Linked DNA regions of Homo sapiens. The protein of the gene in region 2 purifies or fractionates together with the protein of the main gene of each other region. This does not show direct contact. Each region holds a gene or a part of one and is shown on either strand. Other genes may lie near its edges. The genes, in order: HERC3 and AWAT2.

What was found.
Region 1: the proteins of AWAT2 (region 2) and HERC3 purify together in Homo sapiens (affinity purification with mass spectrometry; one large-scale study listed by BioGRID and IntAct). This does not show direct contact.

The regions. Positions count from the first base shown.
Region 1 is NC_000004.12:88,668,941-88,672,759, reverse strand, and holds part of HERC3 (probable E3 ubiquitin-protein ligase HERC3), read right to left. Parts: intron 2,901-3,819; coding exon 2,737-2,900; intron 2,622-2,736; coding exon 2,508-2,621; intron 1-2,507. UniProt on the Homo sapiens protein: E3 ubiquitin-protein ligase which accepts ubiquitin from an E2 ubiquitin-conjugating enzyme in the form of a thioester and then directly transfers the ubiquitin to targeted substrates.
Region 2 is NC_000023.11:70,047,092-70,051,695, forward strand, and holds the start of AWAT2 (acyl-CoA wax alcohol acyltransferase 2), read right to left. Parts: upstream 2,848-4,604; 5' UTR 2,842-2,847; coding exon 2,757-2,841; intron 1-2,756. UniProt on the Homo sapiens protein: Acyltransferase that catalyzes the formation of ester bonds between fatty alcohols and fatty acyl-CoAs to form wax monoesters.

The DNA.
Region 1 (3,819 bases), on a different chromosome or scaffold from region 2:
ATTTCCACAATCTGTTATAATTCTTACTCACAAAAGAGGATGCTGGGCCTATAGAAATTAGGTAACTTGTCTAAGGCCATGGCCATTAGACCAGAGTAAGGAACTGAACCCAGGTCTTTTTGACTGGAGCATGTGCTCAATAATATACTACACAGCCTCAGCTATTAACAAGCTAAAAATGCCAACACACATCAAAAAAATCCATCTATTATTTAAAAGTAGTTAAACAAAAATAACATATGAAATAGCTTTAGTATTTTAAATTAAACTTCAAAATATCAAGACATTTAAAATTCAATTTCTAATAGCATTGTACCTCATACAATAAAAAAAATTCCACAAAAATCACAAAAGGCCATATACTAATTTCATGTAATTTTCCATATTTCTTTAATAACTATTATAGTTATTGAAGAGATGAGCATCTGTTATTCAAGATCTGATAAGATATTTATCAAATGTTAAAAGAAAGGAAGTTTAAAATATTGTAAAAGTTACTTAAATATCTCTACTCAGAGACTACTGTCATAATAATCTAGATTTTAACATGAGCAACTTCTTTTTCAGAGTAAAAAAGAATTACAATTTGTTAGACTTATTTTATTCAGCATCAAGTCACAGAAAGGGTAGATTAGAAATCAGAAGAATTGACTTTTACTGCTACTAATGAAATTAGTGGAAAAATTGTTTAACTTCCATTTCCTCATCTAGAAACAAAGCAGTTGGACTAAATAATTCATCAGGCTTATTTTTCTGCTCATAATGTTATTATTCAGTGAATAATTATTCATAAATTGATAAAACAGAAGGGCTTATTTTTTAATAATTCCTAAATTTGAAAGTGAAAACAGAGTTCATTACTAGCCTCCATGTTAAATTTCCCAAGTCAGCCCATTTAGAACACTCTAACTCATTTATATTAAAAAGTATTTTCCTGGCCAGGCACAGTGGCTTACCCCTGTAATCCCAGCACTTTGGGAGGCCGAGGCTGGTGAATCACTTGAGCTCATGAGTTCAAGGCCAGCTTGGGAAACATCACAAAACCCCATCTCTACAAAAAATACAAAAATTAGCCAGGCATGATGGCACGCACCTGTAGTCCCAGCTACTCGGGAGGCTGAGGTGGGAGAATGGCTTGAGCCTGGGAAGCAGAGGTTGCAGTGAGCCAAGATGGTGCCACTGCACTCCAGCCTGGGTGATAGAGCCAGACCTTGTCTCAAAAAAAAAGTATTTTGTTTTCTCAGGGTAATCATAAAATCTTATTTAAAAATAAAACATTGTATGCATTTTTTAAGTCTCTAGAGAAAAAAATACAACATTGTGTCTAGCATTCATCATCTATTATTTGACAAAGAAAACAATCCTTCTTGTTCAGTTAGATCAGCCTATTTAAATGTCTTGCTTTTGGAGACAACTGCTGACTTCCAAAAACCCCACAGGAAAAATATTGCCCTAATACTGGTGATGAACCTGCTACACTGGCAAGGACTCACCTCAAATCTGCTGCACATGGCTTCACAAAATACAATAACCAAATTATCATTCTGTTTTCTGACCTAACTCAAATTTGCACATACTCCACAGATGGGAGATCCTAAAGAGCCTTGCATATATCCCAAGCTGGTGTGCTATCAAAAGGAGCAGTTCCTGCCACGCCAGAGGTGGTAGGCAGGAATCCACAGGCCCCTGAATGGCATATCTAAAATACGGTGAGACAGCACTTGGTCAGGGATGTGTGACACTTTCACACACATAATTCTCAATCAGAAGGGGCCTACGGGGTCCAGGTAGCTGACATATGATGACTGGAGTAGGCTGTCAGAAGATGATAATTAGCAAATGACCCTTCCTCAATGTCAGGGATAAATTACGCTGCAGTGGGAATTGTGGCATATACATAAGCCTCATCTAAAGAGTCACTCTTGAACTCCAGCCACTTGGTGTCATATGGGAAGACAGGTCGTGTTGCCAGATCTTCCAAGTTTTGAGGAAAGCTAAAAATTCATATTTGTATGTGTCTTGTTTTTTTAATTATGGTTTAAAAAAAAACCTAACATAACATGTACCATCTTAAGCATTTTTAAGTGTACACTTTCAGCAGTGTTAAGTATAGTCACACTGGTGTACAATTGGATCTCCAAACTTTCTTATCTTGCAAAACTGAAGCTATACTCATTAAATAGCAACTCTCCATTTTCCCCTGCCTCCAGCCCCTAGCAATCACCACTGTACTTTCTGTTTCTGTGGATTTGACTACTTTAGATACTCTGATTTTTTTAAAGGGGGCAACTGATAAAATGTGTAACATTCTGGGTGACTACTCATTTATGACTCCTTATAACATTGATGATTACTTAAAGCACTTCCAAGTTTCTAGAATGCAAAAGGCCAGCTGGATGAAGAATAGGTGACACACTGACATCAAAGTCAAAGACATATTATACAGCTCACATGTGCTTTTCTTATAAAAAGACTAAAGCTTTAAAATATGCTTTATGAATTCTTACCATCCCTGCTTGATGCAAGAACCACATGAGGTAGTCTTCCTGAATGTCCACGAGATTGGAAATCTCAGGAATGTAAAATGTATCATATTCCACATGCTTCACTTTAAGATTTACCTAATGAAGAACAAAATACAGACAACTGAAACATGGCTTCCCAGAGAACATCTCACTAGGACATTTTACCCTACCATCTAATCACCCCCTCCCCACTAGCACCTCCTATGCTCACCTTATATAACTTCTCCAAGAGTTTGAGAGCTGCTGTGATATAATTGTTAAACAGTACGGGAATTAAGAATGTCTTTCTTCCCCTCAGTAGATAAAGGACTGCACCTTTATAGAGGTTTACCAGCTTCATGAAATATTTCGGGCATACCTGAGACCACCAGTTATCTTTAGAAAGAAAGAAAAGACATATTTCAACATGTAATCTTGGGCAAGTATTTATGTCTTCTGCCTGCCAGTTAAAAATTGCTTTGTCTAGAAGATAAACATTAGTCTAAAATACATTTTCCCAAAACTGACTTTAAAAAGAATCCATTAAAACCTTTTTGGGGAGAACAACAGCTGTAAAAGAATCCCTGGAGCTTTTTTTGTAAAGCCTGGTCTGATTTTTTGCAAAGACTCAATCTGAAGGTTAACTTAAAAGTCCAATTCCAGACTACATGTGGACAAGATACACATATTTTGGGCAGGAGTGATGCCCAATGTATTAATCCAAAAAGCATTCTTATGTCCTAGCGCTTTCAGCCATCACTAAATCCTGAAGCAGAAATGCAAAGGATGACGCACCACATACCCTAGAAGCAGCACCAATATGGCAACCATTCCCTTCCCTTTAAGAGGTATCATTAGTTGAAAAACTACGATTTTTACTTCTCACCAAAAAATGCTTTCTCATAACCAGACAAGAAGATATACCACTGGCTTATACTTCGTTGGAAATAAACTCAGCCATACTGAAATACTTAAAGAATGAAATAGTATGTCTGAGATTTCCTTTAAAATACTCCAACAAAAAATAAAAAGGTGGTGAGGGCGAGGGACAGATGAAATAAAATGGGCAAAATACTGACAACTGCTGAATTTGTGTGGTGACTACCTGTAGCATACTCTCTACTTTGGGGTATTCTTTTAAATATCAATAATTAGAAGTTAAAAATAAAGTGTAAAATTGAACAATTATGTTCTCTTTGTATTTTCCAGCCTGGAAAAATAAAAATGAAAAAACTCTAAAACTTGAAAGTCAGGTAAGATTTCTTCTGATATTGCCACCTCTCTGTTTCACATCAACTAGAACACCTGAGAAAAT
Region 2 (4,604 bases):
ATTATGAATCATATTTTCTAGTCATAGGCATTTAACCAAAACCTGTGCTATAACAATTTTGGGAGGATGGGGGAAGAGGAAGTTCTAGTGATAGTGTGCACAGCCAAATTCTCATCTTCCATATTAGGAAGTCAATAGACAATGTCTAAAATTGTTACATCAGCAAATAATAAGATTTAGAAATATGGAAGTAAATTCCAGAAGAAAGAACCAACAAAGTTGAAAAGCACTGCCTTGGGAAAGAGAATTAAGGGTAGAGCAAAGGCCAGCAGTTCTAGGGTTTTGATAAGTGCCATATGACACTACTGACTTCTTTGAGAAGTAAAGAGAGGCATTGGGTCTGATCCAGAGGACACCTCCCAGTTTCCTTTAGGCTCTGCTCAAACCTAGGCAGTGCTGGGGACATCTTGTAAGCGTGGCCTCAGGTGGGGTGCCCTGTGATGTGATGAATCTTGGATCTGCCACTTACTGTGTGTGACCAAAGACGTTGCTGAACCTCAGTTCCTCATCTGCAAGATGGGAACTAAAATACCAATATCTGCACTATTTCCCTCACTTATTGGGAGGGCCTTCTCTCAAGGCCTTTAGGGTCCGGATGGATTCAATTGCACTCCTAGAGTGAAGAGCTGAGAGGCCTCCGAAGGGCCATTGCCCCACTTGCCCTATGTGAACTAGTGAGGAAGGGGCAAACGCCTGCAGCCCATATCTGCTGCCAGGACCGAGAGCTCTTCTGCCTGCCCTCTCTGTACCTCTTAGTATACCCCGAAGTCAAACTCCAGTTAAGAGTCCTCTGAGTCCATTTTGTCCCTGGACTCATCCCCTTTCAGCCACTCTCCTCCTTAACCCTTCTCTGCCCCACCTGCCCCCCTGCCAGCTCACACTGGGACCTGATCCCTCAGTCTTGCTTCCTCCATTTCTCCCGTGCCCCCACCCCCCATCTTCAAGTCCTATTCATTCTACTCCAATTTCTTGAATCTCCCCTCTTCTTTCCTCTTCTCTGCATCACCATCACTACCGGCCTGGTCCAAATTACCGCCATCTGGATTATTGCAACAGCCTCCTACCTGGCATTGCCCCTTCCACTTCTATCTTCCTATAATCAGTTGACTTCACAGAGCTAGAGTAATCTCTGATGCCATCACCCTGTGTCAGTCTCCCTCATGGCTCCACATGGCTCTCAAAAAAAGTCCAAACTCCTTCCCATGGTTTACAAAGCCCTACACAATCTGTCCCCTGCCTGTTTCTCCAGTCTCTTCCTTCTTCCCTCTCTTGTTTGTTCATTCATTCATTCAATAAATATATATCGAGCACCAATTCTGTGCTTCTCACCCTCCACCTCACTTAACCACTGGCAGCTCCTTGAATGCATTATGTGCCCTTTGCCATCCTAGCTTTTCCATGTGTTGCCCACTCTCTGCCCCAAATGCTCTTCCTTTCTTCACCTATTTCCTATTTGTCCTTCAAGAGTCAACTCAAATTCAAGAGAAAAATGGGCAGAGGTCATAAATGGGCAGTTAACAGAAAAAGAAATACTAATTGCTGATAAACATGAAAAGATGCTCAAACTCATCAGTAATTAAGGACGTTCAAAATGAGGCGACAGCTCATGGTTTCTTGCCTATCACTTCTGGGTGGAGGTAGTAAGGACTGTGAATGAGTTCTCCATTCACTTTCCCTCCCATGCTGTGGTAATCCCTCAAGCCCCATTTTGCAGCGACACAATTTGGTGGTGCCTCCGTCAGCCTGAATATCAATGTCCACAGTGAGCGGTGACTCCCACCAACCTATGTTGGACATTCAGCATGAACAAGAAATAAACATTTGCTGGGTTAAGCCACTGAGATTTCAGGGTGAATTTATCAGCACGGCATACCTAGACCATCCTGATTAATACACCCTGAATGCTCCCACTTTGCAAATGAGGAAAACAAGACTCAGAAAGGATAAATACCTTGCTAAGAATTACACAGATAGTAAGTAGTAGAACTGGAATTTGAAAACAGGTGAGGTGAGGTAAGGAATGCCCACCCTTCCTATTCACTGGCGTGCCTCTGTGCCAGCTCTGTGCACCAAGGCCTATCTGCATTCTTTATTCCTAGATAGCTTGCAAGGTCACTTAATTCATTTCCCTGACTCCAGCCAGTACTCACCTGAACCACTGGAAAGGCAAGAATGTTTTCCAGGACCCCTTCCCACAGTGATGATTTGTTTCAGCATTTAGAACACAGTGGCCAGCATAGAAATAACTTTCACAAAGTGTTTGTAGTGTAAGCGTTGGAAGACATGGATGGATAAATTGTCGAATTCCTCAGGATGAGGTTTCCAGAGCCTCGGTCTGCCACCTGACCCAACTATCTCTAATTGGTGGTTTGCTTGAGTCCCTGTGATTGCAGCCAAGCCCTTTTCCTTGGCTAGCCTCAGTGGAACTGCTCCTCATCTTCCCAAAGAATGCCCTCTACACCCCAATGTAGACCGAGAAGGGCTCACACCTGCAGCAAAGTCCATGTGCATAGACGTGCATATACACACCCCTGCATAGGCACACACCCATATGCACACACACATGCCCACAGGGACACTCACAGATCCCACAAATACCATGGCCAGGTGGGTCAGGCCAGAGGCTGGTGTTACCAACCTTCCTGGTTTTACTGGAACAACCCTAGTTTGACCATTGAACATCCTGCAACCCTAAAATCCTTCAGTCTCAGGCAAGCCAGGATGGTTGGTCACCCTACCAAAGGCTGAAGACTCACTGATAAGCAAGGCACTGAAGGACCACTGGAAAACAGCAAAGACATCCAGGGCAGTCTTGAGGTCCTTCTTAGAGGGCAAGAGCATTGTGCCCAGCGTCCCAGTGGCTCCAGGTAAGCACTGTTCAGCTGCCCAGCCCTGATTGCTCAGGAGTCTGTGATGTTTCCTCTCTTAATGTTTTCTTCCCCAGCCTCTGGCTAGCCTCCGCCCCTGTACCACCCCTCCACAGAATTACAGGACCATATAATGCCTCTGCTTATCCAGTTCCTTCCAGCTGCCCACTCACCTGTACTTTTACCCACTTGGGTATTGCCTGGACTGAGATTGTGACACTCCTTTGCGCACTTGGCTAGAGAAATGTGATGAAACCCTGGTGTGAAAGTTAGTGTGGGCGTGCAGCTGACAAGAGGCCTCCAGGGCCAGTCTGGATGGTGGAGAGTGATGGGCAGGAAGGAGCCCAGGGCTCAAATGGGACACAGGGCTTGCATTTCTGTTTCTGAGGCCCAACTGTCTATGGTCTCTCAGTGACAATGGGATTGGAGGGCAGAGGGAAGGAGGTCACAGGCAAGGCCTTAGAAATACCTTCAGCCTTTTAGTCAGTCTGGGAGAACTCATTACTCACATTGAAGAGACATCACATGTATGTCTGTGAGCTATCATAGGTACTGAATAAACCTATTATTGAATGAAGAAACAAATATTGGTGTATATTATTCTGTGTACATGAAATTTTAGAATAGGCAAAACCAATCTATAGTGAAACAAATCACAGCAGTGGTTACCTGTGCTTGGGGATTGACTAGGAAGGGGCATGATGGAAACCTTTAGGGGTAACAGTGACGTTCTCTGTCTTGATAGGACTGTGAGTTACACAGATCAAAACCTCATTACTCAGTGAGTATACACTTAAAATGTGTACGTTTCACTGCCTGTGGATTTTACCTCGAAAGTAAAAAAAAAAAGTTGAACTCTCATTAATTCTGAAGTGTTTAGGGGTGAAGAATACTAGGCTGGGCATGGTAGCTCACACCTGTAATCCCAGCACTTTGGGAGGCCAAGGCAGGAGGATCACTTGAGGCCAGGAATTAGAGATTACAGTGAGCTATGACCGTGCCACTGCACTCCAGCCTGGATGACAGAGTGAGACACTGTCTCTAAAAAAACAAAACAAAAAAGAGTGCTGATGTCTGCAATTTACTTTGAAATGCATGTAAAATATATTGATGGATGGATACAGGGATGTACTGATGGATAAATATGTAATAAATCAAACAAAGATTGATTTATTAAATCTAGTAAAATATATAAATATTTTATATTTTTAATATTTTAATATTTTTTATATTTTAATATATTTTTATATATTAATATTTATATATAATATATTAAATATATTTTTATATTTTAATATTTTATATTTTATATTTCTGTACAGATAACATAAAATATTATCTGTACAATCTAGGTGGTGGGTATTCACTGTACAATTCTTTCAACTACTCGGTAGGTTTGAATTTTTTTATAATAGAATTTTGAAAAAAGAGTTCCCTCAAGGTCATACTTTGGGAGGCCGAGGCAGGCAGATCACCTGAGGTCGGGAGTTCGAAACCAGCCTGACCAACATGGAGAAACCCCATCTCTACTGAAAAATACACAATTAGCCGGGCGTGGTGGCACATGCCTGTAATCCCAGCTACTCAGGAGGCTGAGGCAGGAGAATCGCTTGAACCCAGGAGATGGAAGCTGTGGTGAGCTGAGATCGCACCATTGCACTCCAGCCTAGGCAACGGGAGCAAAACTCTGTCTCAAAAAAAAAAAGTAGTGGCTCGCTCCTGTAATCCCAGCATTTT